2 separate regions of the Homo sapiens genome follow, and region 2 is linked to region 1. Evidence: fine-mapped expression QTL. A gene starts in region 1. The other region holds a variant in brackets. All regions are shown on one strand. Distances are between the middles of the regions.

The links.
Region 2: its variant is fine-mapped to the expression of LINC02609 in tibial nerve (GTEx, PIP above 0.99).

What each region holds. Positions count from the first base shown.
Region 1 is chr1:90,843,183-90,859,778 of GRCh38, reverse strand. It overlaps LINC02609 (long intergenic non-protein coding RNA 2609), which reads left to right and starts at 8,141. Exons shown (of 3, transcript NR_135038.1): 1 at 8,141-8,296. LINC02788 (long intergenic non-protein coding RNA 2788) reads right to left here. Exons shown (of 4, transcript NR_186594.1): 2 at 13,980-14,125; 3 at 11,658-11,723; 4 at 10,307-10,790. LINC01763 (long intergenic non-protein coding RNA 1763) reads right to left here and starts at 8,020. Exons shown (of 2, transcript NR_146610.1): 1 at 7,500-8,020; 2 at 4,880-5,551. RefSeq lists silencers at 8,003-8,402, 8,693-8,812 and an enhancer at 8,596-9,096.
Region 2 is chr1:90,127,871-90,144,466 of GRCh38, reverse strand. No RefSeq gene overlaps it. Among named protein-coding and RNA genes, the nearest start is that of ZNF326, 140 kb to the right of the region's middle. RefSeq lists an enhancer at 11,700-12,201. The variant T/A (reference allele first, on the strand shown) is at 8,893.

The DNA of each region.
Region 1 (16,596 bases):
AGAGAGTATAACAGGACAAGTGAACATGCTGAGATAGCCAGTGAAAAATATGGAAAAAACCTGGGTCCTCGATTATGTTGCTGAGATACTGCATCAATCAATCCTAGAACCACAAGATCTCTGACCTGCTTTGTGAAGTAACACAAAGCATTCCTCTTTTACCTGCAGCTGAAAGCATTCCAAAAGATACAAGAGGAAGATGTTAAATGTGGAGGTGAAACTGGGTCCAGAGTTATTAATCTTCTATTAATAAATACTGTAATTTTATGATTAGTTATTGCAAGGAATGTGTTTAATACATTTAAATCTTTAGTGCAAGTTACAAAGCACAGCAAAACACATACTCTGAGTTAAAATTTTGACTTTACACATCAAATTAAAACCCAAAGAAACAAAATTGTTTTCTCTTCCAAGTGGCATCATTACTGTGGAACTGCTGCTGGGAACAGACCTGACATTGCATAGGGCAGAAGATAGGAATTGTGTTATCAGAAAAGAGTATCTTGAAGTTAAAAGTATGGTGACTAATATCGCATCTTTCAGCATTTCAATCAAATCACAGATTTGGGTTTAAAAATTAAAATTTTTTAATAATTTAATAATTTGTAAAGATAGAATACAGACCAAAAACCTAAAAGAAGCTCCAAATGACTAGACCTTAGGCCAGTGCTGTTACACCTATCACATCTAATGCTGTGCCTTAATCATGAATATTTCTATTTGTTGACAGTCATATGGGATTGCCTTAATATTAATAAGAGGCACAATAGGTATTTAGATTAGTGCACCCATTCTTTGGCTTCTACAGAAAAGTAATTTTTAAGGTATTGGACCAGTGTATGATTTTTGCCAACTTTTAATCTTGCCTTGCCAAGTAAAGCTATTAATTTATTATAATCATTATTTATAAAAGAAAATGTTTAACATCTCAAAAGACTATAATCTTGGAATTTTTTTTTTTTTTTTGAGACAGAGTTTTGCTCTTGTCACCCAAGCTGGAGTACAGTGGCACGATTTTGGCTCACTGCAACCTCCGCCTCCCGGATTCAAGTGATTCTCCGGCCTCAGCCTCCTGAGTAGCTGGGATTACAGGCACATGCCACCACGGCCGGCTAATTTTTGTATTTTTAGTAGAGACAGGGTTTCACCATGTTGGCCAGGCTGGTTTTCAACTTATGACCTCAGGTGACCTGCCCGCCTCGGCCTCCCAAAGTGCTGGGATTACAGGCATGAGCCACCGTGCTCAGCCAATCTCGGACTTTTAAAAAGATTAAATTTTGCTTTATAAAATCCTGTTAACTTCCCTTTGTTCATTTATTTATATTTACCACAGACAGGTGAACTCCTTCATGGACTGGCATGAGCCTGCACATGGAAAACCCTGATTGCAAATATTTTCTCCCAAATCTATTATACACTGGAAAATGTTACCTTCATCTTTCTATACTTAAAAATAGCCTTTTTGCTCCTTTATTCAATGATTATTTATATATTTGTGACATGCAAGGCCTGATGAAAACCACTGTAGAGAATTCCAAAACATATAAGACCTCACTCCTGACCTTTGACCTGTTGATGCCTTGGCTGGGCCATAAGACACATCACACAGCATCAGGCAAATTTTGTGTTCTCTGCATCAAGCCTTTTTTATTTATTAAAGTCCAAATACCAATTTTTTTTGCCTAGCCTAATTTTCTTTCAGGTCTCAACCTCAACCTTGTGTGTCTTTACTAATAGGTAGCCAGCCAAACAATTGGCAAAGCTGGTTTTGATAGTGCTAGAAAACCAGAGGTGTAGTGTTGTAAGGGGCGATGCTAATCAAAGGCCAGAGAAGGACCATGACAGGAGAGTGTGAAGATGGCAGCATCCTGTGAACAGGAGTCCAGCCACACATAGATTCATCTCCTCTGGGGCCTGTTCTTTCTGGACCCTTACTGAGATTTCTAGCCCTCTTTGAGCAAATAAAATGGATGGGGAAGCACCCCTGTTATTTCTGTGTTCTCTGATTTGTCTAGCCTTCAGAACTGTGTTCTAAGAATGTCTGAATTTGATCAGGACCATAAGATGATTATGTCCTCACTACAAGTGGATTGTGAACTAAATGTATCAGTTTGGCAGCCAAGATCAATAGCCTTGCCTTTTTTTTTTTTTTTTTTTAATCAAGTTCCCTTTGGCAGAGGCCATTAAGGGAAATCCTATCTATCAGAATTCAGCATAGAGTACAGAATTTTCTAGACCTGTCCACTGGGCAAAATTAGCTCCAACCCATTGCTAATTTGGCTCAAGAAAAAAATGCTGTTGTTTCTAAAAAACACACTAAGCAATGTTTGAGGATTTTTAAATGATCAAGTAAGGAGAAAATTGTTTAAAAAACAAAACTAAATAGCTATTTCCTGCAACACATGTTTAAGGCATCTCTACATTATTTTCAAGCCTTTCTTTCTACTACCAATAAATCAACACAGGCAAGCCAAAGCAGCCTCATAGTTCTATCACAATTTCATACATCAAGGCTCTTGGAGAGCCTATATATTTTGGTTTCCTCCCAGCTTCTTCTTTTTTTTTTCCTGTGAGCTTGTTTTATAATAAACATTTTAAACATTTTCCTCTCAAAGTGCTTCTCCACAAATATCTTTCCTAAATTGTACGTTATGTCTCAGTTCTGCTAATTGATAATCCTAATTTCCACTTCATTTAACATGCAAGCCTCGGCGTTGAAACCCTGATGGACTAATCGGGGTCATTTAAAGCCCATCTAAGAAATGGGCTTCTTCTTACATATGCTCAGTGAGATTTTGGAACACTATTGTCAGGAAATACAAGCAATCCCTGAAACTTTTTCCCCCTGGGTTATCAGAGTCCGAGACAATTGATGACATTACATCGGTCGTTCATTTTAGATTCGTGGAGCCCACAAAAATCAATAGTTTTCCATTATCAGGTCCAGCTGGGTCACTAGTCTGTCAATGAGCTGTTACAATTGCTGTACAGGGGTGAGCCTGACCAGTCAATTGCTGCTGACAAGAGGAAAACATGCTGACAGCCACGGGAACAAGTCAGAACACAGATTTGCACTTCAGTTTGCCATCCAAAGAGGCTCAGAGCAAGGCCATTTTCAAGACACAGGGCATACTCCCTGGGAGGTGGGGGTGGGGGGTAGTGGCGGGTGTGGAGGGAGGACTACCACCCCCGGGTTTTGTAGCACAAGTGCCTAAGGGCCTGTCCTGGCTCCAGCCAACCATCTCTTATAGAGATAGCTGTAGTCACTGCCTTTGTTAGTAAGAGAGCATATACCAGCCAGAATTGTCCCTAAACACACCACATTGTACCACAGCAAGATTAGGAGGAAGGAACCCAAATTTTACTATCACTGGCCCAGATGAAACTATATAAAACTTGAGAAATATAAAAGCTTAAAGAGGAAGAAAATGGGCCAGAGGCATCAAATCTAAACAAATATGGCTAAACATGTTGCAAGTAAGTATTGACTGAGGACAGGAGGTCCTCTGGTGTTGGTACATAGGCTGTCCCCTTGTTGTCTCATTGTTTATAACATTATCTATACTTCGATCTCAACATGACATATTTAACCAAACTAAGCCTCCCTGATTGGTGACTGATCCACAGCTAACTGTCTGATGCAGTGGGCAGCAAGGGGAACGGAGTCTAGTCTTACCCTGCCTACAACCAAGAAGTAAGAGTATGGAGTGGTGAGCTCGGGCAAGTATATTAACTGCCCCATATTAACATGGAGACATGCTTGCCTTACATGTGTTACAAGGTGATCATGAGATTAAAAATGAGATCAATTGGCAGGGCGTGGTGGCTCACACCTGTAATCCCAGCACTTTGTGGGGCCCAGGCAGGCAGATCACCTGAGGTCAGGAGGTTGAGACCAGCTTGGCCAACATGGTGAAACGGGGTCTCTACAAAAAATATAAAAAATTAGCCGGGTGTGGCGGTGGGCACCTGTAATCCCAGCTACTTGGGAGGCTGAGGCAGGAGAATCACCTGAATCCAGGAGGTGGAGGTTGCAGTGAGCCGAGATCACACCACTGCACTCCAGCCTGGGCAACTAGAGCAAAACTCCATCTAAAAAAATAAAAGAAAAAGAGATCAATTGAGATGAGAGTAAGCTCTGTCCAAGTAAGGGACTGTGCGAGTGTGCATGAGTGTGTATTTGTGTGTCTCTTACTCTGTGGAAGCTATCCATACAGCAAGAAGTTGGGAAGCAATTGAAAGAAGTTCTGCTCCAGAATAATTCATTTTTGGTCTAGACTAAATGTTGTCCTTCCTTAGCTGAATATATGAATAATCTCTAAAGACCATCATGAGTGAAAGCCAGAACTTAGAGGACAGCTCAGGAGTCTTAATGGGTTTTGTGGCTCTCCTTACTCCATAGAGAAGGTGGTTTAGATGCTGGCAAGGTGGACACACACCATCTGGAGCTTGCAAAGCATCATGAATTTGTGCAATGCTCTGGTCTTCTCACCCTGGTTCAATTTCAGACATCAAACTTAAGAGCTCAAAAGATAAATATTTTGAATTTATTTCAATATTATGATTTGTAATGTTCGACTTTTATTAACATCTTTCAAGTATTAAATTGTAGTATTTTTTCCCCTCAATGCCTCCAGTCTTGGGTTTGAATCTTTTGGAAGTCAACATTCACTTGTGTTCCATCATCAAAGCTGGTAATCAACTGTATTACTGGAAGCTAACTAGGGCTTTTTTTTTTTAATGCTACCCCCAAAAATTATTTTATTTAAATGAGTAAAAAAAGTAGTTTTTACAAGAACAAATTTGCTAGTAATTAGATGAACCAGTCTTACGTCTTCCAGCACTTGGAAACGTGAAATTCACCAGAACTCTCACAGCATTAATTAAAATGAATTTATGTTTTTTTAAAAAAATGCTTCATGTTTTAGCTCCTTCATTCTTCCACCAAATGTGATTATGTGGGGGCTGAAGGGAATTCAGGTTAATATGTTGACACACTTAACAATGCAGGGTCATGTTGCACAATACGCTTCACTGGTTTGGTTCAGTACACCCCCTGACAGGGCCTAATCATCCCCTGCCCTAAAGGCAGAGGGAAAGAGAGGATTTTAATTACTGCTCTGTATGCAAGTTTGCCAGCATTAAATTGAGACATAATTAGGCCTCTGAATTTTAATAATTGTCCTAGCTAATTGGGCAGACAAGTACGTTATACAGCATGCCGTGATTAGATAATTAGTATTTCCAAATGACAAAATTGGGCTCTTGATTACAAATTCTACATGAAGGAGGAAAAAGGTAGCAAGCAAATCTTTACAAGTCTATTAAGAGAGAGTTTAGCGATGTTGGTAATTTAAAGTCCATTAGGAAGCAACATTTCACTCTCAGAGCTGGATGTCTGAGACAAGGGCCTCCGGCCTCCTCTGGCTCCTCCTCACGGTGCTCTGTTTTCCCTGGGGTCTGCTGCATCCACCTTCCCCCATCAACCCCAAGGTTAGCAGCCATCATTGACCTTGGGTGAGGTCTGTTTTGCTAGATGGCAGGTGTAACTCTGAAAAAGAAATCACGAAGGGTAGGAAGGATAGAACAAAGAAGAGGTAATCTACCAAGGTGGGGAGGGGCTGTGTAAGTACCCAATGTGGCTTTCTATTGCAAACAGCTGTTCTTTCAATCGTCTCCCAGAATTTACCACTCTCATTGTATCATCAGCTCCACTAAAATCTTTTTGGTGGAAAAAAATCTTAAATCAAAATCTCAAATTTCTGAAGTATTATATTATTGGGATGAAGAGTGTGGGTATTGGAGACTGACTTGGATTTGAAGTCATCACTTACTAGGAGGGTGGTCTTGCATAAATTACTTAATCTTTCCAGGTCTCAGTTTTCTCTTTGGCAAAATAAAGAACCTTCTCCAATAAGATTGTTGAAATAATTAAATAAGATAATACACATACAGATGGTCCCCAACTTAGAATGGTTTGACTTAGCATTTCTCTACTTTACAACTTTACGATGGTACAAAAGTTCCTTCATTTATGATGGGGTTATGTTCAAATAAACCCATCATAAATTGAAAATATTGTAAGTCAAAAATGTACTTTCAACTTAACATATTTTTAAACTACAATAGGTTTATCAGGACAATCCCATCATAAATTGAGGTGCATCTGTAGTTTAAAGCTCAGTGCCTGGCATGGAGTAAATGTTCAATAAATATTAGCTGTTAAATGCAAATTAAATCAATAATATTGGAAGGCACAAGGTGAAGGTGCTGGGTCTGGCTCTTTGCTATGCCAGTCCTCAGATGAAGCAAGGTTCCCTATCCCCATTGCTTTCTGACAGAGGAATGTGGTACTTCATTTATGCTGTGAGGATGGGGGTGAAAGCCCAATGGCAACAGCTGCCTCCACAGCTCAAATACCCAACGAGATTTCCTTTCTCCCCATTCTTCAAGGGTTGGCATTGCAGATAAGCCCTCCCATGCAAAAGTCATGGGGGCACTTAACCTAAGAAGAATGTGGTATAAATTCTGCATCTTACCTTCACACCTTGTGATTCACTCTGCATGAATGTCACTTTATTACTACAAAGGCATAATTCTAGCTGCTAAATTTTTTTCACAATCAATAACCAGTAGTCTAGGCTCTAAAGCTATGTTTTTCAGGCAAAAGGAATATCACTTGGATGCAAACTAGAACCCTTCTAAAAAATGATTGATAGGTGGTTCATGGATGACTATCTGATGAAAGTTTGTAAGGGGAAAAACTCAGAAGTTCCAGATGTATATTCCTGACCACTGAGAAGGAAAATAACAATGTCTCCATGGCCTGGTCCAGTCAAAATAGCTACCAGGCTGAATCAGTATTTTTTTTTTTTTTTTTTTTTTTGAGACAGAGTCTCACTCTGTCACCCAGGCTGGAGTGCAGTGCAGTGGCATGATCTCAGCTCACTGCAACCTCCATCTCCCCCGCTCAAGAGATTCTCCTGCCCCAGCCTCCCGAATATCTGGGATCACAGGCATGCACCACCATGCCCGGCTACTCTTTTATATTTTTAGTAGAGACGGGGTTTCACCATGTTGACCAGGCTGGTCTTGAACTCCTGACCTCAAGTGATCCGCCCGCCTTGGCCTCCCAAAGTGCTGGGATTACAGGCGTGAGCCACGGCGCCTGGCCTAAATCGCCCTTTCTTATTACTTTCTTAGAACTTTGGGCTATCTCATTTATGAATGATGGAAGAGTTCTGCTGAGGATTTCAATTCAGAAAGCAGGGTTCTCTCTGTGGGTAAACTTCATATCACCCAGACATAATTTCTACCGAACATCATCAATTAAATAACAAGAGAGGAGGTCAACACCTTGAGACCTGAGGAAGAAGAAAAAATACTTATCATTAAGTGTAGGATGCAAACATTCTATTAGAAGCTTAGAAGCAAAGAGTAAGATATTATTTTCGTGGATACAAGAGAAGACAGAGAAAGACAGAGGGAGCGGCCCTTACGACTGATTTGTGTTTACACAATAAGGAAATCTCTCCTCTGGGGTCTCTCCGTAGTTCACAGGGACCCTGCTTCCAGGGGCACGCGTGGCGAAGAGAGTCCGTCCAGAGCTCCAGCCCTCACTGCACTTCCCAGGTGCCAAGACAAAACATCACTGGGTGGGGAGAGAACTGTCATGAGGATTATTCCCCCGCCACACAATGCTGAGCTTCTCTCCCTCTCTTTTTGAAGAAGTGCGTTTATGACTGATCGCTCAACACCTTGTTGGTTCTGATTGCAGAAAACACACCTTATAAATATATGATAACCATCCTGTAATAGAGAGTGTGACAATTTACTTCACAGTGCGTTTCGGGCTGCTAATTGATCGTTTCAGTCCAGGGACGATTTGGAATAAATTATAGCCATCAAAAGGATATCACAGCTCATTTTGGTGGAAGGGTTTCCACGTCGCTTCGCGTTCGTCTCCCGGAGAGAGCAGATTGCACCCGGCGGGCGTTGAGGAGCGGAGGGAGGGGGCAGGGGAAAAGGAGGCCAGCGGGGCGGGGATGGGCCGAAGGGCGGGGCCGGGGGGCGGGGCAGCGTCTCCCGCGGCGGCTGCAGGTCCGCCGCCGGACGGTAGAGGCCTCCCTTCCGAGGAGGCGGTGCTGGGGCGGGCGCAGGACTGCAGGCTGGGGCTCCGCTCCCCGGCGGGAGCCCGCGCGTGGTTCCCAGCGAAGTCCCCGCGCGGCTGGGCCCAGCGTGAGTATTCTCCGCCCGCTGTCCTCCCCCTGGAGGCGGCAGCGCCCGTTTATTTGAGGTGAGAGTCTCCCTCGGGCAGAGGGCCCTGCTTGGGGCGGGGGTGCTTGCGTGCGCGGGGTCTCACCTCCTGCCCGAGGCTTCCCCTCAGTGGGGCTGCTCCGCAGGGCAGACGCGGTGACCCAGGGCGCTGCGTTCTGCGCTCCTGGAGCTGGAGGTAGCGAGGCGTGGAGGCGCCGTGGCCCCGTTGGGGGCTTTGTGTGCACTTGGGGCTCGTGACTCGGATAGCTCTGGTTCCCACGTTGCAGTTGGGGAGGAGGCTAGTGGAGAGACCCAGTCTGGAGGGAGCTGTGCCCACCGCAAACCCCAGGAGAGGGCGTGGAGAGGGCCGGCCCGCCGGGACGGCGCAGCCAGGCGATGCCGGGGTCGCCCGGGGGTCGCTAGGGCAGCGGGTGACGCGCTGTGGAGCGCGGCGAGAACGACGGCCTCTGACCCCGGAGCGCTCGCCAAGGCCACGCCGAGGTGGCTGGACCCTGCCCCTCCCCGCTGCCGGCCTGGGCCCCAGCCTGCCTCAGAGACTTCGATTTCAGTTTCCAGCAAAAGTGTGTGCCATTGTGTGGTGGTCGTGGAGGAGGGAGACCCACGCGCCTGTCTATCGCTGGATGGGATTGGAATTTGAAGAAAAAATGTCCCTACTCCTGTTGCGGGTTCTTGCCTATCTGGCCGCCTCCAGTCCCGCCCACGAGACCTCCAGCTTTCATTTTCTTCCTGAACTAAAGCCCGAGGACTGAGGCCCTTCACGCGTAGCGTAGCCCCCACCCCCGGTGCCCAAAGCCGGCCATCGCACGGCGGTTCTTAGCTTTTTAGTCTCTGTCACGCTAATACATGCTGTTAGTCCAGGTCAGGGATGGTTCCATGCAGGCGATTTTGACAGCAGTCATCATACCAAGCTATTAGGAAGCGTGATGTCAGTGCGTTCTGGAAGGACAGATAATTTATAAACCAGTTCTTGACATGGTATCTTACAAGGAAACATCTGAAGCCATCAGTAAAAGAGGCATTTTAATTCACACACTAAAAATATTTTGTGTTTAGTTAACATCGTGCAAATGTTGAAAGAGGTAGTAGCATTTATCATTTTGTAGGTATTTATCAAGGTACTCAAAAAAGTCCCTATAGGAAGGAGGAGGTTTTTGTCTTATTTCCATTCTGACATAAACTGAGGAACAGAGATGTTATGTAACCAAATAGTCCAAGTAAGTTAGTGAGAGAGCTCTATTTATGTGACCAAACATTTTCTAAAACTGGAATAATAGGAAAAATCAAGTCCAAATTTAAGCAGATGCTTTAGGCTTAATATTATATGATAGCCAGAAGTTGTATTTACATGGACCAAATACTTTGGGAGGCTAATCTGTGGGAATTAATTTTATAGTGAACTCCATATGGGGCCCAAGATACAGTTTTCTTTTCCTCCATCCATCCATTCAATAAGTATTTATTCATTATCTATTATAGGTCCTCCACTTCCCTTTGCCATTGAACATGATCCCTATGGACCTTTAATAAGTAATTGTTGAAATGTAACTAAAATATGTATATTTTCTCCTTGCTCCAAGAAACTCAAGGAACATTATTATGAAAGAGTTAAAAACTGTGGCCTTTCTTTGATACAAATGGAAAATTGTGTTGATTACCTTTAAGTAGAAAGTCAAGGGAAAAAAATAAATTAGGAATCAGAAAGTTTTCTCCAGATTGTGCCGTATTCACAGTACCACACAGTACCATGTTTTTTTTTTTTTCTCCTTTAAAACTCATTAAGCAAAGTTTAAAGGGCATACATGATTGAAGGGGATATTCTTTTAATTACTTTAGAAAGCAAAATAATCCTTAAAAGGTCTTGCTCCTTATTTGGTATACTGGACGGGCTGGTTTCATTTGAGTTGAAAGCACTATATTTCTAGTTAAAATCAAGACCACATACAGTACCTTTTTTCCCCCCAATCTTAAGTCAGAATTGTCTACAATTAAGTAAACAAAATGCATCCCAAGTAGTCATACATACACCTGGTTAAAATTAATTGGTTTAATAAAAATATAAAAACATACTCAATATGTTTATCTCAGTTATAGTTTTCATCTTTCTTGGATAATGCTTGAAATCATTCAAAACAATATCTAGATCCTAAATATTAAAACATTTTGTGTGAAATCTGCAAGATGCACCTAAAGGATGTACCATTTTTTGAAGTACAATATGTTAGGAATAATTTTGTCCCTAACTCTCAGCTGGAGGGCTGAAACGGTATAACCAAGGTCTAACTAATGTCTGCATGTTAACAACTACACCAGAACTTACACAAACATTTTAGTGTGTTCTCATCTATCAAGTCATCTTGGAAGGCTGTCACTTATTGTGTAGGTGCTTCCATTGCTGCCATTGCTCAAAACGTTTCTGGAGCTCTTTGTTGGGCACTGCTTTCAGAACCCACAGCACATCTGGTTTAAGAGCCTTGGAGGTGGCAAGCCATCTTCCTTTAGCATCCTTCAGTGCTCTGAAGAATAAGGTGGGTGGTCAAGTCAGGATAATATAATTTGGGGTCAAAACAAGCTGAAAGAAAATTAGATGACTTCCCTCAATGACTTTTTAACTAGTTATAAAGTCATCATACTAACATATGGCAGCACCACTGGAATAAGAGTAGCTGCTAAAGGACAGCCTTAAGAAAAGTGCTACACATTCTCTTTGATTGTCAATGAATTACTAACTTAACAATCATATACATGTATAGTGCATTGGTATGCATGATAAAGACATTACTTCAAAAAGTTATATTGTCAAGAGTTTGGTTGGTTGATTCTAAATTTTTTGAGTGCACAATTTTGGTATGATTTAAAAAGCTAAGTTCTAGAATATGGAATTGGGTGGGAAACATTCAAGATGTCGTGGCTAAAATTAGGGTTGCCCTATATAATTCCACAGGATTGGCATTCCACATTCCTTGAAATATTAAAGAATCATACTCATTTAAGAAATCAAACATAACTTGTATTCTATTTGGTGAGCAAGGCTTTGACTATTACAAAAAACTTCCCCTTCTCCTAGCCTATGGGTGAGGCCTAACCTGTGAGGTCAAACACTTGTCATTTTTAGTAGTTGATCATAAATACAGACTGAAAAGCATATGTGTAGTGGAACCACCATATTGTTTTAAGTGAATAATATTCAACCTGCTTTACAAAATACAGAATCATGAAACTCCTAGCCCAGTGAACTAAGCTCTTATTATAATATTCAAGGCCAGAATGTGGGAGATGGTATGGAAAGTCATCCAAGGAAAAGAGTGGGATGGGGGAGAAAGAGGTTAGTCATGGGGCTTTTTAATTATAATTAGTTGTATTCATCTGAGGGAACAACTTACCATTGCTTTCCAAAAACCAGCAATTTAAAATTTGAGGAAATAATTCAAATTCAACTCCAGCTGAGACTATACAGAAAACCAAGAAAAGCAGAAAGAATGTAATTAGCTGAGTAGGAATTTTCCTAACAGTTCAAGTCTAATACCTTTAGTATTATATAGAGGGCCAAGGGATCATTAGTGATTAGCAAGAATCCAGACCATACTGATCAGGAGAGATCAAGGCCAATGGACAAAGATGAAAGAGCTTTCCTGCTTAAACCCAATGTTGCAAATGCTGATGCTCTTACATAGGGAAGGTCAGCCAGCAGACAAAGAAATAGGGCAGTCGTCCCAAAGCAACAAGTAGAGTCATTCCTCTCTTTCACTCCAGAGTTAGATTGCATATGGAGATTAACCAAGATTGAGCTGAGACAAAAAGAATATCATTCTTTCAGCCAGGTATAAGGTCTGGAACTGAGTCCTGTTTCTGCTTTGATGAACTTGGGTATTGTCCAGACATTGGGGAAGGGAAAACCTGCTGGGCCCTGGATACCAAGATTACACACCTAATTAAAAAGGTCAGTGAACAAGGTGGACAGACCCAATTCTAGATCTTTTCTGGGGAAAGACACCGGACTGCTTGTCCATTAGGTAGACAGAATGACTCTTAAAATGTATGTTAGATGCCAGGAGTGGTGGTTCATGCCTGTAATCCCAGCACTCTGGGAGGCCGAGGCAGGTGGATCACCTAAAGTCGGGAGTTTGAGACCAGCCTGGCCAACATGGTAAAACCCCGTCTCTACTAAAAGTACAAAAATTAGCTGGGCATGGTGACACACGTCTGTGATCTCAGCTACTCGGGAGGCTGAGGCAGGAGAATCACTTGCACCCAGGATGTGGAGGTTGCAGTGAGCCCAGATCGTCCCACTGCACTTCACCCTGGGTGACAGAGTGAGACTCCACCTAAAAAAAAGAAAAAAATAAAATTAGGGGTACAAGGGAGTATCAGTTATCTGAAGGGAGTATCAGTTATCTGGCAAACTATCCATAAATAGTACTTGTGGAAAAACAAGTAACAGTGATTTTAGCCTTCCTTTTTAAATGGGGAGCCTAACCATCATGACTACCCATCTTGTTGTTGTTGTTGTTGTTGTTGTTGTTTTGAGATAGGGTCTCACTCTGTCACCCAGGCGGGAAGTGCTGCAGTGGCATGATCTCAGCTCACTGCAACCTCCGCCTCCCAGACTCAAGTCATCCTCCTACCTTGGCTCCCCAGGTAGCTGGGACCTCAGCTGTGTGCCACCACGCCTGGCTAATTTTTTGTATTTTTGGTAGAGACAGGGTTTTGCCATGTTGCCCAGGCTGATCTTGAACTCCTGAGCTCAAGTGATACTCCCGTCTCAGCCTCCCAAAGTGCTGGGATCACAGGCATGAACCACCGCACCCAGCCATGACTGCTCAGCTTCTATAGATTTAAGAGTTCGTGCAAATATTTTAAAATTTGAGTCTAAATATTAAATTTTGTGTATAGTGTTTGTAGCTTCAGGAGTGGGGAGAGGGTAGTTCTCAGTATGGTCCAGGTAGTTGTAATAGAAGCCTGGTGAGTATAATTTGAAGTCCATCTCTTTTAAAGAGAGAGGTTCCTGTCTTTAGATTCCAAAATTCACATGTGGATCCAGAGTACAGAAAAGGTAGAGGACTGCCATGAGAATTGAGAAGTGGTAGAAAGAGTCCTGGACTGGGAGTGGGAACTAGGTTTATCATGTCCCAATTATGTTTCTTGAGGCAAATTTTAGTTTTCCTCATAGGCAAAATGTATATAATTGTAATATCTACTAGTCTACTTTGCAGGGTAGTTTGTGCCTTATCTGAGATGAAGTAAATGAAACACTTGCTGTGCATGCGCAGGATTTTGTGTGCTACAATGCAGGTTTTATAGGTGAAGGTAATGCTTATAGCCCTGGAGTTGTCCAAATATATGAACCAAAATATAAAGAAAGCTAGAAACCCACCTGTGGGAACTTGGGAGAATAGAATAGTTTTAGCGTGGATACCAGAGACAAATGGATAGTATAGTCATTACTCCTTTTTCAGATTCATAGGAAGTACCCTGTTGCCATTGCAAGAGATTTTGTTTTTACACTTCCTGAAGACCTGTTGTGTATAAAGTAACCTTAAGATAGCCCCCTTTATACTATCAAGCTCAATTCTGCAGCAGTGGCACTGAAAGGACAAACTTTCTTTGTGGAGAAAATTGACCAGACTCCTAGGCCTTGATTATTGTACTCCCAATGGTCCTTCTTTTCTTAGAGATTTCATTAATCCCCATTGCCATGTTCATACCTTAAAGGAGAAGAAGAAGCTGACTTGAGTTCTACAGATTGGCTTAATCGGTCAGCTATGAACATTTTCTAAAAACAGTTGTTATTCTTCCCACAGCAGCAATTCATTTCTTTTGCAGACACAGCAGGACCCCACCTCTCTGGACCCTGCAGACCATTAAAAGAAATTAACAGTTTAATTTTCTCCTTCTTTCCTCTGTGTATTTAAAAGGTACAGAGGATTAAGGGGGAAGGGCAGTTTGCCTCTCTACCTCACAGAAACCCCTGTACAGATATAGACAGCATCATTGGCTCCCACCAACATGAGGCATGGCTCCTAGAGAGGAGGGGGAAGTGGATGTGGGTGTCCTCAGGTGGGTATATACTCATCCTTTCTTCTGTTGAGTTGCCGGATTTCACCTCATGAAGAGTAAAAACAATGCCCCTTCTCTGAAGTCATGTTAGAGGGATGTTTTCTGGAGGCTTGTTGAGTATCCTCCATACAGGAATGCTTCATAAGTTCACATTGTGTGAGGGACCATGTATGTGAGCCAGGACAATACAGTCACAAAGGAAAAGGGGCATTTGATTCAGGCAGTATGTGTTTGAACATCAGATCTGCTCACCAGCTTAGTGGCTTGGGCAAATTTCTTCATCTCTCTGAGTCTCAGTTTCTTTATCTGCGAAATGGCAGTAATAACAGTGCTCACTTCTAAGGATTAGTGTGCATGAGGTGAGTGTATGACAAACGGGAGTTGTAATATTAGGCTCTGGGGAGTCAGGGAGGAATATAAATAAATATAAGGCAAATTCCCATCTTCAAGGAGCTTTCAGTTTGGTTGGAAGGGACTGAATAAAAATAAAGCTGACAATACAAGGCAGAAAATGGGAGCACCAAATGAGTGCTGCAGATGACAAATTCAGCAGTCTGCCAAGGACTAGGATGATGGTTGAAAGGTTTCAAGACAGAGGTGGGAGTTTCTCTCCGGATTTGCAGACTGGACAGGAGTCAGATATATGGAGTGAAATTGAGAAATCATCCAGATGACAAGAGGAAGGAGGAATCAGAACACACAGCACATGCATAGCAGGGGGGAGAGTATGCTGGAGTGGAAAGTATACCAGCTTTTGAGCCAGATGTAAGAATCCTAGTGCTGCTGTGAGACCTTAGTTGGACAAGTACCTTAACTTCTTTAGCCTTCTACAGCCTTAAAATGGGTATAATTATACCCATCTCTTAAATGGAAGGGATTAAATAAGATAATATTTGTAATGCCTAACATGGTGCCTGGCATCTTCAGTAAAATAAAGACAATTCACATGATGTTTTCAGCGGACAAAGAGAGAGCTGTCTGCCTGAAGAGCTGTCTGGCCTTGTGTAGGCTAGTAGTGGAAAACAAACCAGGAACAGCTAATTAATGCCTATGGGGAGGGTAGGAAGGAGGCTTGAAAGCCAATTTAAGAAGCTGGGGCTGGCCGGGAGCGGTGGCTCACGCCTGTAATCCTAGCACTTTGGGAGGCTGAGATGGGCAGATCACCTGAGGTCAGGAGTTCAAGACCAGCCTCAACATGGAGAAACCTCAACATGGAGAAAATACAAAATTAGCCGGGTGTGGTGGTGCATGCCTGTAATCCCAGCTACTCGGGAGGCTGAGGCAGGAGAATTGCTTGAACCTGGGAGGTGGAGGTTGTGGTGAGCCGAGATTGTGCCATTGCACTCCAGTCTGGAAAACAAGAGGGAAACTCCGTCTCAGAAAAAAAAAAAAAAAAAAAAAAAAAGAAGCTGGGGCTGTTATAGGCAATCAGAACTACCAAGGCAAAGTAGGGGTTTAGGATAGTTAATCTTAAGGCACTCTGAAAGCTGTATTTGAGGAAGGAAGAAACTCACTCCTTTATGTGTAAAGTGATCAGGGTCTAGATGAGGATGGTGGAAGGGTTAGTAGACCTGGCCAATGTCTTTTTAAAGTTATTTTCATAAAAGCAATTTAGGGCTCAGCAGTGTGGAGTAGGGGGGAGCTTTTTTGTTTGTTTTGTTTGTAGATTCCTAATATTTAGTATTGATTGTCTACAATAAAACTAGGATAGACCCACAACTTTGGAAAAGAGAGATCACTCAGCATTCAGGGACAGTACAAGGTGAGAAGTAATTCTGATGCTAAATAAGCCCTATAATTTGCTTCAACTTATAAAATAGCCCCTTTTAAAAGCCCCTTCCCCCTTCCTATTATTAATACAGATCAAGTGTGTTCCAACCACTGGTTTTCAGGAAGACATAAGTACAGATCATTTATCGTTGTATGGAGTTTGCAGTTAGGATTGTAACACCAAGAGGGGTTGGGGCAAAGGGCGAGGATGCTGCCAGCAAAATAGTAATGTTGATGATTTTATTTATTTGATAATAGTGAAATTCTGTTCTCTCCTGGGGTTTAGAAGTGATTTAATTAAAAAACAAACCTAGGAAATAGTTTTGGATACTAGGAATTAATTTATAATGTCTCACATTTTCTACCTTTCTCTTTTTTTTCTGTCTTTAGTAGTTTTGTAATGGGAGAATACATGGTAGATAATTCTGTTTCTAAGGAAAATCACACTGATTATGTATATGAACACTGGTTTTTAAAACGTTAGGAAATCCTAAC
Region 2 (16,596 bases), 720 kb after region 1:
TTTTTTTCTTTTCTAGTACAAGTTCTGTGGTATAGTGAGGTCTTGGCACATCTGAGGCCCTAAGAGGTTATTTACTGTTCTTGCTAGTAAACTTCCTATGGAGAGAGCTTTCTTGATCCTTTTGCACTGTTAGTCAAGGAAACACAGGAGTGAGCCAACACAGTCCAAAGGAAGCCTCAGAGCTGCCTGAATTCCTAACACTAGGTTCACCAGCCCTAGCTAGTATGTGGAGTGCTAGAAAACAAGGCAAACAGTAGCTTAGTTATGCTCAAGAGCTTTGAAAAATAATAATAATGACATTAAATCACATTTTTCCAGGAGATTAGGCCTTGGGTGCCAAGCATTGAGCATGAGTTGAAGTTTTTGGTAGACTGAGTAGAATATAAGCACACACATACACTGTCCTATGGTATCAAGTTCTTCAAAAAAGCCCAAATCAAGGATAAACAGTTGCCCATTAGGCAACAGAAATTGACTCCCTTGGGAAAGGACACTAAGAGATTAACTTAAGGTCCACCCCTTGGCAGATGGACTTCTCCATTAAAATTACTTGTCAAAGATTCTTCCAGTCAGTTAAGCTCAAAGTCATTAGCTTAATGACAACAGTTCAGAAACATCTTCACCTCTGCAGAGCAGGAGTACCACTCAAAGGTCATCATCTTAAGAGGCATTGTGAGGCTGAGTTCTAAGAGATTAAAATACCTTTGTGGGCAGATAATGCTTAAGTCATATTTCACAGGATTTCAGACATCTCTCTTATTATCTATGTAGATCTTAATGGGAACTCAGCCAGCATGGCCATTGGCCATATGTTCTTCCTTCACCAATTTATACCATCAGTATTTTCACGCCATGAAAATTCTGGTTATAAGAACATTAAAGGAAACCCTAAAAGGATAAAGACATTGGAAAAGAATAACTTAGTATCTGAAGGAGGACTGAAAAGGGATGAAAGAATTCATTGCATTACTGGCATTCATCCAAATGCCAGCTCCCCTCTTACTCATTAATAGAATATGACATCAAGGCAAGAATTCTAGGAGAAATGGGAAAAGCTTCAAAAAGAGACATCTAAAAGAGATATGAGGCTGGGCGCAGTGGCTCATGCCTGTAATCCCCACACTTTGGGAGGCCAGGGCAGGTGGATCACTTGAAGTCAGGAGTTGGAGACCAGCCTAGACAACATGGTGCAACCCCGCCTCTACTAAAAAACAAAAATTAGCTGGGTGTGGTGGTAGGCACCTGTAATCCCAGCTACTCAGGAGGCTGAGGCAGGAGAATCGCCTGAACCTGGGAGGCAGAGTTTGCAGTGAGCCGGGATCACACCACTGCACTCCAGCCTGGGCAACAGAATCAGACACCATCTCAAAACAAAACAAAACAAAACAAAAAAACTACACAAATTAGCTGGGTGTGGTGGTGGGCACCTGTAATCCCAGCTAATAGAGAGGCTGAGGCAGGAGAATCACTTGAACCCAGGAGGCAGAGGTTGCGGCAAGCCAAGATCACACCTCTGCACTCCAGCCTGGGAGAAAGAGCGAGATTCTGACTCAAAAATAAATAAATAAATAAATAAATAAATAAATAAAAGGGAAATGAGGCTTTGCATCCCTTGATGGAACAAATGTATTTTAAGGTATTAACTGTAAGATAATGCTACAAAGCACTCAAAACAACCAGAGTGAAGAAGCAGAACTCAAAGTTAAAAACTAGAATGCAGAGACTTAGGAGGATGAATTTATTTTTCTTATTAAAACCAGTGATCTGTAAACAAATCATCTATTTCCTAAAGATTAATAAAATCAACATTAATCACAATCAAACATTGATTCTGAGTACACTTAATGTATTTAATGTTGATCAGAAACTGGAAAAAAAGTTATTCAATTTTATGGATTTGGATTAGGATCATTCCCAGTTCTGTAAATATTTACACCTATAAGGATATCAGGAAGGAATGTCAGGCAGTTTACTAATAACTTTTCAAAGTCTTAGAAAAGTTGCATTTTTTGCTGGCACCAAGAGGAGAAAACATCATAAAAATAGTTTCAAAATCTACAATCAATCCTTTCTCCAAAATAAATGTCTTTGTTAAAAAAAAAATAGCAGATTTCTGAATTCTGTTTTTCCCTTGGGCTAGTGATCATCCCAGCTCCTGCTCTTTGCTCTGCCCTCACTTCCTCTCATGCTCTGCTGGCCATGAAGGAGCTGTGAAAATCCAGACTCTACCAATAAGACAACTTCAAATTACACAAACACACAGATGAGGCCAGGTGAACTTGCCTTCACTCCTTACTTTTTTCTTGCAGATAGGAACTTTCCCTTTCTGCCATGCTTTTTCTACCTGGAGGCCAAGGGATTCCATCTTTTTCAATAATACTAAGTAAGCCACCAAACTATGTCATAATGTGGCTTGATCATGATAGGCTTTTTCTGGGTCACAGTGTGCTCTTGCCATCTTCAAGAGCCAAGTCAAAGAGTCAAGTCTTTTTTGCAGGAAAGTTTCATATATATATATATATATATGTATATATATATGAACATATATACATATATGTTCATATATGTGTGTGTATATATATATGAAAAAAAAAAATATATATATATATATATATATATATATATATTTTTTTTTTTTTTTTTGAGAGGGAGTCTCGCTCTGTCACCCAGTCACCCAGTCACCCAGGCTGGAGTATAGTGGTGCGATCTCGGCTCACTGCAATCTGCACCTCCCAGGTTCAAGCAGTTCTGCCTCAGCCTCCTGACTGGCTGGGACTACAGGCATGCACCACCATAGCCAACTCTTTTTTTTTTTTTTTGGATTTTTTTGGTAGAGCTGGGACTTCACCATGTTGGCCAGGCTATGCTTGAACTCCTGACCTCAAGTGATCTGCTCCCCCAGGCCTCCCAAAGTGCTGGGATTACAGGCATGAGCCACTGTGCCTGGCCTGTTTCCAATATTATCTGTAAGTATTTTATGTTTTCATTAGTGCTATTTTATTCTTTATAAAAATCAATTGCATACATGTTAGATATTCCTATCTGTCATTTTTATCTGTCACTGTTTCTTTTTCTTTTATTTTTTTAATTTTTTATTGTGGCAATATATACAAAACATAAAAGTGACTCTCTTAACCATTTTAAGTATATGATTCAGTAGTATTAAATACATACATTAATAATGTGCAACCGTCACCACAATCCATTTCCATAACTCTTTTTCATCTTATAAAACTAAAACTCTATACACATTAAACAATAACTCTTCATGCTCCCTGACCTCAGTTGCTTCAATCACCATTCTCCTTTCTGTCTCTGTGATTTTTACTATTCTTAAGTACCTCATATAAATTGAATTATGTAATATACGTTCTTTCATATCTGGCTCCATCTAGCACAGTATCCTCAAGATTCATCCATATTACTGCATGTGATATGGTTTGTCCCTGACCCCACCCAAATCTTATCTTGAATAATTGTAGCTCCCACAATTTCCACGTGTTGAGGGAGGGACCTGGTGGGAGGTAATTGAATCATGGGGTGGTGGGTCTTTCCCATGCTGTTCTGATTATAGTGAATGAGTCTCATGAGATCTGATGGTTTATAAAGGGGAGTTCCCCTACACAAGCTCTCCTGCCTGCTTCCATGTAAGATGTGACTTTGCTCCTCATGAGGCCTCCCCAGCCACGTGGAACTGTGAATCAATTAAATCTCTTTCCTTTATCAATTACCCATGTCTTTATTAGCAGCATGAGAATGGACTAATACAGTAAATTGGTACCAGGTAGTGGGGCACTGCTGTAAAGACACCCCAAAATTTGGAAGCAACTTTGGAACTGGGTAACAGGCAGAGGTTGGAACAGTTTGGAGGGCTCAGAAGAAGAGAGGAAAATGTAGGAACATTTGGAACTTCCTAGAGACTTGGAGATCTCAGAAGACAGGAAGATGTGGGAAAGTTTGGAACTTCCTAGAGACTTGTTGAATGACTTTGACCAAAATGCTGATAGTCATATGGAAAATAAGGTCCAGGCTGAGGTGGTCTCAGATAGAGATGAGGAACTTGTTGGGAACCAGAGTAAAGGTCACTCTTGCTATACAAAGAGATTGGTGGCATTTTGCCCCTGCCCTAGATATCTGTGGAACTTTGAGGGAGATGATATGGGTTATCTGGTAGAAAAAATTTCTAAGTGGCAAAGCATTCAAGAGGTGAAAGACCATAAAAGCTTGGAAAATTTGCAGCCTGGCAATGCAGTAGAAAAGAAAACCCCAGTATCTGGGGAGAAAATCAAGCCAGCTGCATAAATTTGCATAAGTAACCAAAGAGCCAAATGCTAATCACCAAGACAATAGGGAAAATGTCTCCAGGGCATGTCAGAGACCTTCACTGCAGCCCCTCCCAGCACAGGCCCAGAGGCTTAGGAGGAAAAAATGGTTTTGTGGGCTGAACCCAGGGCCCCCCTGTTTATGCAGCCTCCAAACATAGTGCCCTACATCCCAGCTGTTTCATCTCCAGCCATGGCTAAAAGGGACCAACATACAGCTCAGCCCATTGCTTCAGAGGGTTCAAGCCCCAAGCCTTGGTGGCTTACACATGGTGTTGGTCCTGTGGGTGCACAGAAGTCAAAAATGGAGGTTTGGGAACCTCCACCTAGATTTCAGAGGATGTATGGAAATACCTGGAAGTCCAGGCAGAAGTTTGCTGCAGGGGCGAGGCCTTCATGAAGAACCTCTGCTAAGGCAGTGTGGAAGGGAAATGTGGGGTTGGATTCCCCACACAGAGTCTCCACTGGGGCACAGCCTAGTGGAGCTGTGAGAAGAGGGCCACCGTCCTCCAGACCCCAGAATGGTAGATCCATTGACAGTTTGCACCATGCACTTGGAAAAGCCTCAGGCACCCAACACCAGCCCATGAAAGTAGCCAGGAGAGGAGCTGTACCCTGCAAAGCTACAGGGGAGATGCTGCCCAAGACAGTGGGACCCCACCTCTTGAATCAGTGTGACCTGGATCTGAGACCTGGAGTCAAAGAAGATCATTTCGAAGCTTTAAGATTTGACTGCCCCACTGAATTTTGGACGTGCATGGGGCCGGTACCCCCTTCATTTTGGCCGTTCTCTCCCATTTGGTACGGCTGTATTTACACAATGCCTGTACTCCCGTTGTATCTAGGAAGCAACTTGCTTTTCATTTTACAGGCTCATAGGTGGAAGGAACTTGCCTTGTCTCAGATCAGACTTTGGGCTATGGACTTCTGAGTTAATGCTGAAATGAATTAAGACTTTGGGGGACTGTTGGAAAGGCATAATTGATTTTGAAATGCAAGGACATGAGATTTGGGAGGGGCCAGGGCAGAATGATATGATTTGTCTGTGTCCCCACCCCAATCTCATCTTGAATTGTAGCTCCCATAATTCCCATGTGTTGTGGGAGGGACCTGGTGGGAGGCAATTGAATCATGGGGGCGGGTCTATCCCATGCTGTTCTTGTGATAGTGAATAAGTCTCATTAGATCTGATGGTTTTATAAAGGAGAGTTCCCTGATTCAAGCTGTTTTGCCTGCTGCCACGTAAGACTTGACTTTGCTTCTCATTTACCTTCCACCATGATTGTGAGGCCTCCCCAGCCATGTGGAACTCTGAGTCAATTAAACCTCTTTCCTTTATAAATTACCCAGTCTTGGGTATGTCTTTATTAGCAGTGTGAGAATGGACTAATACAGCATGTGTCAGAATTTCCTTCCATTTTAATGCTGAATAATAATATTCCATGATATATCATATTTTTCTTCTCTATTCATCCATAAATAGACACAGGTTGCTTCCCTGTTTTAGCTATTGTGACCCATGCTGATATAAATATGGGTGTACAAATATCTCTTCAAGACCCTACTTTCAATTATTTTGGGTATCATGATGATTTTATTTTTAATTTTTTTTAGGAACTGTCATGCTGTTTTCCATAGTAGCTGTACTATTTTATATTTCCATTAATGGAGCAGAAGAATTATAATTTTTCCACAATCTCACCAAGTTCATTTTCTGCTTTTAGCACATAGCACCATCATAATGGATGTCAGGTAGTAACTCATTGTGATTTTTACTTGCATTTCCCTAATGCTTAGTGATGCTCAGCATATTTTTATGTGCTGATTGGCCATTTTTATATATTCTTTAGAAAAATGTCTATTCAAGTCCTTTGCCTGTGTTTGAACCTGCTTGTTTTTTGTTGCTGTTGTTGTTGTTGTTGTTGTTGAGTTTAGGAGTTCCCTATATATTCCAGATTCCAGATGTTAATGCCTTATCAGATATATGATTTGCAAATATTTTCTCCTGTTCTGTGGGTTCCTTTTTTTTTTTTTTTTTTTTTTGACACGGAGTCTCACTCTGTCACCCAGGCTGAAGTGCAATGGCACAACCTCAGCTCACTGCAACCTCTGCCTCCCAGGTTCAAGTGATTCTCCTGTCTCAGCTTCCTGAGTAGCTGGGACTACAGGCACATGCCACCACACCCGACTAATATTTTATATTTTTAGTAGAGACAGGGTTTCACCATATTGGTCAGGCTGGTCTCAAACTCCTGACCTCAGGTGATCCATCCGCCTCAGCCTCCCAAAATGCTGGGATTACAGGAGTGAGCCACTGCACCCAGCCTATGGGTTGCTTTTTTTACCTCATCAATAGTGTCTTTTGATGCACAAAATTTTTTAAATTTTCATGAATTCTAATTTGTCTATTTTTTCTTTTGTTATCTGTGCCTTTGGTGTTACATTCAAGAAATCATTGCCAAATGCAGTGTTGTGAAGATTTTGCCCTATGTTTTCTTCTAAGAGTTTTACCAAGGACACTCACTTTCACAACTCCAGTACTATTCAACACAGTACTGGAAATCCTAGCCAGAGGAGTTAGACAAGAAAAAGAAATAAAAGGCATCAAAATTGGAAAGGAAGAATTAACATTATCTCTGTTTGTAGATGATATGATCTTATATGTAGATAAACCCTAAAAATTCCACAAAAAATATACAGAACTAGTAAGTGAACTCAGCAAAGTAGCAGGATACAAAGTTAATGCACAACAATCATTTGCATTTATATACACCAACAATGAATAATCTGGAAAGGAAATTACAAAAACAATCCAATTTACAATAACATCAAAAAGAATAAAATACTTAAGAATTGACTTAACCAAGGAGGTAAACGATTTGTACAATGACAACTACAAAACAATGCTGAAAAAAATTTAAAAAGACGTAAATAAATGGAAACACATCCCATGTTCGTGGATCGGAAGTCTTAAAATTGTTAAGATATCGATACTACCTAAAATGATCTATATATTTAATGCAATCTCTATCAAAATAGCAATGAACTTCTTTGCAGAAATAGCAAAACTCATCCCAAATTTCATATGGAATCTCAAGGGACTGTAAATATTTAAAACAATCTTAAAAAAGGAGAACAAAGCCAGAGGACTCACACTTCTTGATTTCAAAACTTACTACAAAGCTGTAGTAATGAAAACAGTGTGGTGATGGCATGAAGACTGACATATAGACCAATGAGATAGAATAGAAAGCCCAGAAATAAACCCTCATATATATGGTCAAATGATTTTTGACATGGTGCCAGGAACCATTCAATAGGGAAAGGACAGGTTTTTCAACAAATGGTGCTGGATAAATTGGATATCACATGCAAAAGAATGAAGTTGTATCTTTACCTAACACCATATACAAACATTACTTCAGAATGGATCAAAGACCATAAACAATAAAACTCCTTATTCATTTTTATTTCTTCTTTTTTATTTTATTTTGGGTGATTTTCTAACCGCTGTATCCCTGATCTTGTGTTCAATTGTGTTTGTTCTTTTTTTGTTGTTTGATGAGACTTTTATCTTTGCACTGATTTTATATTTCCCCATTTCTTTCATTTCTTTACAGAGCAAAGATACATAGCTGTTGAGCCTGTGATCATTCTTTTTAATATTTTCTGGCCAATGTCAATTTAAAGCATGTACACATTAATTATTTCAGTAAGGCTAAGCTATTCTGGCTGCCATGTTTTTCTGAGATAGAAGAATTTTTTTACCTTCTTTTTTCAGTACTTAAAACCAACTGATTCCTAAATCACCTATTCTTCCCTGCTAGGATCCAAATAAAACCGAAGGCCGTCTTGATGAATATGAAAGCTAAATGAAAGTTAAATTTGTCACATTCTTTACCATGCTGCACACTTTCAGAGTTTCATAAATTTTTTTAAAATCCACATAATTAGTTTAGCTTTACCAGAAAAAAAAATTTGAATGACAAGGTCAGGCTCCTGACCTTTCAATAAATTAGAGAAGATTGCCATAAATTGCACAATATAATGAAACACCAATTTGCATATTTGCTGCTATATTAAAAGGGATCGGTTTTAGCTCGCAAAGCAGAACAAACAAAAACATGCATTTTAATAACTCAAATTACTCCCAGGAAGTGACCCTCAGCAGAAAGCCTGATTATCACTACTTAATTAGAAGCCTTGGAAATCTAAATCCTCCTTTAAATCCTATTCTGGGTACAGTGAAAGATGAAGCCATGAGTTTTGTCTAAGATTCAATATTTACTCTTTACTAATATGTTTGCTGGAGAGACTTCCCAAGCATTACAAAGACATGCGAGAAAAAATTTAATATTCAAAGAAAGAGTGCACAAAACCTGTGTTGGCTTGCAGGTGCAAAGCAATTAACAAGCTGGCATTTACAGTACTTTTAATTAATTAATTAAAAATGCAAAGCTGACTTTCATTTCTTTAAATGTTTGAACATTTTATCCATCAATAATAAAGCACTACATGCTGCTGGGCGACAACATCTGGCAAATGAAAAAAGTGAGTCCAGTGTTGAAGT[T/A]AACAAGGAAGAATTTGGAATTTGCTATTGCATCACCATCTCTTCTCCCACCCCCTCACTCCCACTAGTACATGACCACACTCAGTGTCAAATGATAGGGGAAATGGTTTGTTGCCAACCCTGGATCATAAACTAAAAGTGACAATATTTGATGTGACAAGTTAACCTTGAATGGGAATGAAAACAACAAGGCTTATCGCAATTACACTCACCATTAAGGACTTGCCGTTCTGTTTCCTTAGGGGAGCAGAGTTGTTTGGAATTAAGGCTGTGTATCTCCATCTTGTTTATAAAGGTTAAAAACCTAATTAGCAAAGGGAATTTCAATAATTTGAAAAAGAAGTGGGTAGTGGCTTCTAATGTAATGCTGCTGTGACTAATTTTACAGCTGGACCCTGCTTGAACAACGACTTTACTATTCCCCGTGAACACATTTCTGGTCAGTACATATTTAAAAAACAACGCCATTAATGTACTTTAATTAAAACATAAATACTACAGTGCTACCTCGGTAGGCATTCACTCAGCTGGAACTAACTATATTTGCTTAATCTACAATTTTAGATGTATTAGCAAAAATAAATGTTGGTGAATGTAAGAGCCTGATTACATATCTTGGGTAAATTGGTGATAATGAGTCAAGAGACTTTGTGTTCATTCACATATATTAGAATAAGAATCATTATGAAATTAAAGCTAAGATTAATCCTGCTAATGACACCACAGAGCATCTGGGAATAAGATAACCCAGATGTCAGAATCACTGTGCTACAGTGCTGCTATTTGATAGAGTAACCCTTGAAGTGTTCTTCTAAGGCAGATAGCTGCTCCCCCCCAGTCCCAGCACTTGAAATGCAAATGAGTGACAAGATAGTCTAATAATGAGAGCAGATTCTAGCAGTAAAGAAAATGAATAAATTAAAAAAAAAACACTCTGCACCACTGATAAGAACAAGCAGCAGGCACCCTGATGTCCTCAATTAGGGTGGATGACATCTGCTGAGCATTTCTCTCTAATAAAGCCCTCACTCGGTATTCCAAAGCACACGATTCTAACACTGTTAACATTTTAATGTCCTGGGCGTGCATGGTAACATTAATTACAAGATGATTTGGATGACTTCTGAATCTCTTTTATGTCTTCAGCAGAAGAGAACACAGCATAGCAGCTTTGATATCATAAATAAAATGGGGACGCCTGCCAAGCATGAAAGGTATCCTGAAGTCATTCGCATCTGCTATGTTATCCTGAACCTCTGTAGCCAGGCAAAGAGAATCCTCTGGGCATTTACAGACGGTCAGCAGCTATGCATTTTAGTGGGGAGCTATGTGGCTCTCAAGGATTTTTTTCCCCTTATGCTAGAGGTGAAAATTTTGTTGCTGTTTTTAATTCCTAATGAGCTTAAAGTCCAATTAATATTATTCTAAGCACAGTTTGCCTTCCTAATAGCTATTTTCATGAGCTTTGGCAAATGTCACCAGGGCTTTCTTGTTTGTTGGCTGGGAGACAGGGACAGTATCTCCCCTTATTAAGCAGACTGATACAAAGTGTAGGCACTATGGGGGACCCTAGGTGGAGAGCGGGCAGAGAGACACAAAAGAAATTTTGAGGGTCCCTTACTACAAAACTGGCATATCACCATCATCCATGAGAAAATACTAGTAACTTCTCTTACACAGGTAAGGAAACTGGGGCACAGAGAGATTACACAACTTGCTTGCAAGTTACTAAACATCCAGGGAGAAGCAGAACCAGGATTTGAACTTCTGACTAAGCTCAAAATCCATGATTTCACTATTCCTCTCCACTACACCTGTGGCCGTCATTAGAGCTGTTCACAGGTGATCTGGGGCCCATCCTTTGGGTCATATAAGGTTATGTTTCCTTGCCCTTCTTTCAAGCTAACATAGCCATGTGAACTACTTTAACCAATGGAATGCAAACAGAAGCCTTAAAAGAAAGTGTGTGGTTCACCCTGTCCTCTATGAGGAAAAAATCCGCCTGGATCTGAGGATGACTTGGAGCAATGCACAGCCCTAATAATGGGCATGAAGACTAAGCAAGAAATAAACCTTTGTTACATAAGCCTCTGAGATGCTGAGGCAGTTGGTTACTGCAGTGCATGCAACCTAGTCTACCCTGACAAATACAATACTATGCCATGCCAGCAACCAAGTACAAACATGTAAAAACCTCAGCTGGCCTCAGGAATGGATGAAAAACAGAAAAAATAAAAGTGAGGAAATACGTGACTGAAAAGTTGGCCCGAGAACTCTTAGACTCTGAGAAAGAGAAGATTGTGGTTTAATTAACCCTAGTGGGCACCATTTACATCATAAAATGTGTCAATGGCTCCCCCTAGAGTTTTCCAGTGCCCAGATTGCAAGATTATATGCAGTGGCCCTGTCACTTCTAGCTCTGCTAGTCTGAGAATCTGGCTCGCCATTTATTTTACAGATTACGCCAGATTTACAGGATGTACTGGGTATGGAATTCACAGCTGCAGCCAATGAGCACGTGCCCAGCCCAACAATGAGCTTACTCACTCAAAACATCAGGAAAATTCATCAGTAGATTTATAAGGGCACTTGGCCATGAATCAAAATTAATTCCAGATATGACAGATTACTGTTGTTAAATCCAGGTGAAATGATGTTACGCAGTCATAAACAAAGATGTTTTATCCAAATGTGCAGAGAAAAAGACAAAAGACCTTTTTGGCTTTTCATAATTGACTGGATGTGGCACTGATTTGCTGCACCTAGGGAAGGGATATTTGGGAGAAAAGAGAAAATGAGACACAGCAATGAGGCAGTGCACTAATTTTTAAGAGTCCAGCCCTTTTTCTCTCTTCTCTCTCTTGCCTACCTCTGTTTGGACTATTCCAGTGGAAAATTCTAATTCTACATGCCAACTCTCCCTGCTCAAACGGTCTATATTTTGCCAAAGTTACAGCTGAACAGCAGGTTCAAAGATCCCAGCCACTGCCACTGATCAGAAGCTCCCCAGGATATCCCCCAAGGCTGCAGAGCTATTGAACTGGATAGAGCACCTGGGGAACTGAAGCAATTAACAGAACTTCCTTAAACAGGGCCAGAATGGGTCTCAAGTAGACAAACCACACACAGCTGCAGCATCCCCTGCCACTGCCCACTGGCTGGGTTTGCTCAGGAAACATTAGAGAAGATTCTCAACAAGCAAGTCAGCCCCTCCATTTGTCAGCCCAAGCCCTATCTGTTCACTTCTGCTAATAAGAATGCTAGTTAGTAAGAATGGGAACATCTAAGAAAGTTCTAATCTTGATTAGGAGTAGGTGACTCCTCCAAAAAAAAAAAAAAAAAAAGGGAAGCAAAGCAGTTCAGTGCTTCCAAAGACATAAGGGTAAGCCACACTTAGATCCATAGTCATACTCCAGTTGCAGCAACCCCCAGGGGAAGGGCTTACATCACAACGTTTATGCACTGGAAAATGAGGTAACCTGAAGCTTTCTCTCTACATCACCTGAGGTTTCATTCTACGATGCCTTTGCATGGGCTGTTTCCTTCACTGGGAATGCCTTCCACAGGTAAACTCAGTGAACACCTACTCATCTACCAAGATTAAATCAAGTGTCTGTATGAATCCTTCTCAGACCCACCCAGTCAGAGGTGTGCACGGCCCCTTTTGCTCTTTGCCTCTCTCTTATCACTGAACTCATCCTACTGTGTGATAACCACACACCTGCCTCCTCAGACTGCAAGTGCCCTGGAGACAGAGATGGTGTTGATTTCCCCAGCCCCTGCCAGGGTACTGACACACAAGAGGTACTAAGGACCTCCTTACTGAAAGAGTAACTTTAATATTGATAGTGGAAGGCAGATTCAAGATGCTGTGCCATCTTGGAAGATAAATAATGCTCTATAACTTTTTCTCAGGTGCTTCAGGACTGTTTCAACTACCTCTTCTGAAAAACACTTAATACGTTTTCTCTCCCCTTCCTAAGGCTTCTGCATTGCCTTTACACATTCTAAGGTCCTTTTTTAGTTTCTTAATAAGGTGTCCTTAGATAAGCCTCATCTAGTTAGCATTATTTTGTGCCTGGCTGTGACAGGATAACTGAAAAATCAATGAAAACAAAGGCAGAATGGCCTGAGTTTTCATGACTGAGTGGGCTCCTAGGTGTCTTTTACACAGAATAATTTATGGAAACATCCTTTAAATACAGACATTTCCATCTGTTTCACCTTCACTCTTGCAGGGAAATGAAATAGGAAGATATTCAGTCTGTTTACAACCTAATATTGTTAACCTCTTCTTCTCAGTATTTGGAATTTGGTCATACATCTTTGAAGACTGCCTTAGAGCCAATCGATCAAAGACCATCAATGTATTGTACATCAACTTGGTGCCAGGCACTGTGCTAGGGATTTCAAAGGCTCAATGAACTTAGTCTGGTGGACAAGAAGACATATAAGCATTTTTAAAATAAATGCTAACTAGAGATACAATCACCTTAAGAGTGGATGGATATGGGGGACAGATGAGATAACACTTGCACTTAGCTATAAGGGAAGATGGAGGAAGAAAGCCCAGGCAGATGATAATGAAATAAGAAAGGCAAGAGAACAAAAAGGGACTCAGTGATTTGACATGCCTGGAACAGTGACACCAGGGGATGTGGTGGCAAAGAAGGCATGAAGTTAGTGGGTGCCACATCAGGGGAGTTGTGAGTGTCTTGCTGAAGAGTTTGACTTTACTGATAATGGGAAGCACCTAGAGTTTAGGAAAAGAGGGTGACATAATTCAAAATTCCTGGATTCTGAAGGAATATTTTTAAAGGATATAGGGAGAAGGGGACAATCTGAGCAATCATTTGGAATATTTTGCAGAAACCCTAAATAAATCATTGAGGTATTGTTTTTTTCTTTAAAAAACAGTAAAAACAAACTGATTGCCTTAGATAATTATTTCACTCAACAGAAAATATAAGCACTGCATTGGATCAAAAATGGCTGGAAAACTGAATTTTAAAAGAGAATTTTGGGCAGGCGCAGTGGCTCACCCCTGAAATCCCAGCACTTTGGGAGGCCGAGGCAGGTGGATCACGAGGTCAGTTCAAGACCAGCCTGGCCAACATGGTGAAAGCCCATCTCTACTAAAGACACAAAAAATTAGCCAGGCGTGGTGGTACATGCCTGTAATCCCAGCTATTCAGGAGGCTATGAAAGGAGAATCACTTGAACCCAGGAAGCAGGGGTTGCAGTGAGCCGAGATTGTGCCATTGCACTCCAGCCTGGGCAATAGGGCAAGACTCTGTCTCAAAAAAAAGATTTTTAGCCACTTAGCTTGAAAACTGGACTTCCTTTTTAGAACATGCTCAACACCGATGGCAGATGGGGCCCCACAGTCAAGCAAGAGAGTGAGGCAAGAAGTAAACAAACAATCAGACTGCAGTATGCATACCATCATAGAGAGCTGTACATGACAAGGCAGCAGAGAAAAGGAAGAGTGGACAACTATTCAGGAAATAAGGAGGCCAGATAGTTTTGCAAAGGCAATCTGAGATGGGTTGTAAAGCCTAATTTAAGAGTTCATCAGCCAAAGTGAAAAGAAAACTATTATGAATTTTTTTAAAAAGCCTACAACTATGGCAATAAGTGTATGGTTCAGACAGACAAAGACCGTCCTCCCTGATATCAATCAAAAGGTTTATGACTAATCACAGACATCAATATTTCCTTTAAATAGTTTTCATGAACCTACCAACCATGAATTTATCTATACCTCTTTAAGAAGTTATCTCTATTATCGCTCCCTGGACTTGGAAACTCAATGCTTAACATTAACTTTTGATGTTACTGCAACTTGCTTCATCTCCATTTGAAGGAGGGTGTCTACTAGTCCTGCTTTTCCAAGATTTTTTGATGAGTTCATGTCACTTCTATTGGAACTCCTCATCCTTCAATTCAAAGAATCTTAAGTTTTTTGTCTATCTTTATATTTGAGTTCTCATCCCAGCTAGGATCATTTGGAGGCTCACTCCATCCACCTCAAACATCTAGAAACTTATTTTAATGAAATATGAACTCCTCTCCATACATTGCTCCCATAACTCTGCCATTTCACCCCAGTCCCTACATATTATTCCTTGTTATAATGCCTGACAACGTATCAGGCATTTTAATCTACATGTTAGCTCCTCCATGTTCCTGAAATGATGTAACATGTACAGATTTCAAACCAAGAGTTCTACAGAATAAGGGCCCCAAAGAATCCTAATAAATGTGGCATCACAAATCTGTGCTTTTAATTATTTGGCCTGTTCCTCTTGTGCCCAAAATTATTTCCTGATATTTCTATAGCTATTCTTGGCAAGCAGTCCATACGGGTACCTCTTATTTAACCACAGTTGGTACTTTACTGTCGCTCTTTTTCTTTCCTTGGGTGAGAGAGCTCCTTTAATAAAAGTGATCATCTCAGAGGAAACTTAAATTCCACTGCCTCCCTCCAGTGTTGCACTTAGTGCTGTGTGTTTAACAACACCTTGGGGATTACACTTAAATCCTGGAAAATCTTTAAGCAGCAACATACTGGCAACAGGAAACATGCCTTCCCCTGAGAACTCAGGGACAGAAGAGTGAGAATGGTGGGCTGCCTGAGAAAGGGTGAATGTCCAGGGATGAGAGCTATCACAGAGTGGAGTAAAGATGACCTGCGGGCTCTGCCTCCACATCCAACACAGGGACCTGGCACTGACACTTCTCCAAAGGCCTGGGGTTTCCAGAATGAAGTGAACAAATGTCATTTTAGGAAGGGACAGGTGGTCTTCACAGCCATCTATTTTCATCCCTGCCTGCAATCAAGATCAAGATCTGATTTATACCATCCCAAAGAAGGAAATTTTGGTGATTTTATAAGATCCTTTCTGTTTTGTTTTTTGTGTTTTTTTTTTTTTTTTTTTTTGAGACAGAGTCTTGCTCTGTCATCCCGTCCAGGCTGGAGTGCCGTGGCGTGATCTCAGCGCACTGCAAACTTCACCTCCCGGGTTCAAGCAATCCTCCTGCCTCAGCCTCCCGGGTAGCTGAGATTACAGGCATGTACCACCACGCCTGGCTAATTTTTTGTATTTTTAGTAGAGACGGGGTTGCACCGTGTTAGCCAGGAAAGATCTTTTCTTTATAGGAGATTCACCAGCAATACCACCGTCACCAGTTGCTTAGTCCAGGATTTAATAAACTTCACTGGGAGCTTCTTTATTGCCTCTAACCAATTTTTTTTCTGGCTGAAGCTAAAACCTGCTCCAGTTTTGCTCTCCTCTCATTGTAGAGGAGACAGGGACATTCCCTAGGAAAGAATTTTGCACACACTATTTTCTTTATATAAAATATGCATAATTTTTAAAGCATTAAACTCAAAAGCAACCCCAGAAAACATCATTATAATCACCTCTTAGATTGAGCCTCATAGAATTAAGGTGTATTTTTTATCCTACAAACAATTGCTGAGCAATGACTCTGCACCAAAACAGTGCTGGACATGGCATTGTTATTATTGCATGTTTGATGACCAGGCTCTTGATAAGGCTTTAAACTCTATTAAGTCTTATTACGAATGGGTCAATGACCATTGGCAAGGATTCTTTAGTCCAAAGACTAAAGCAAATATTAAAGAAGAAATAAAAAAGAAAAGTCTTCTTTTACAGTTATACTTTTAATAAAAGGCTA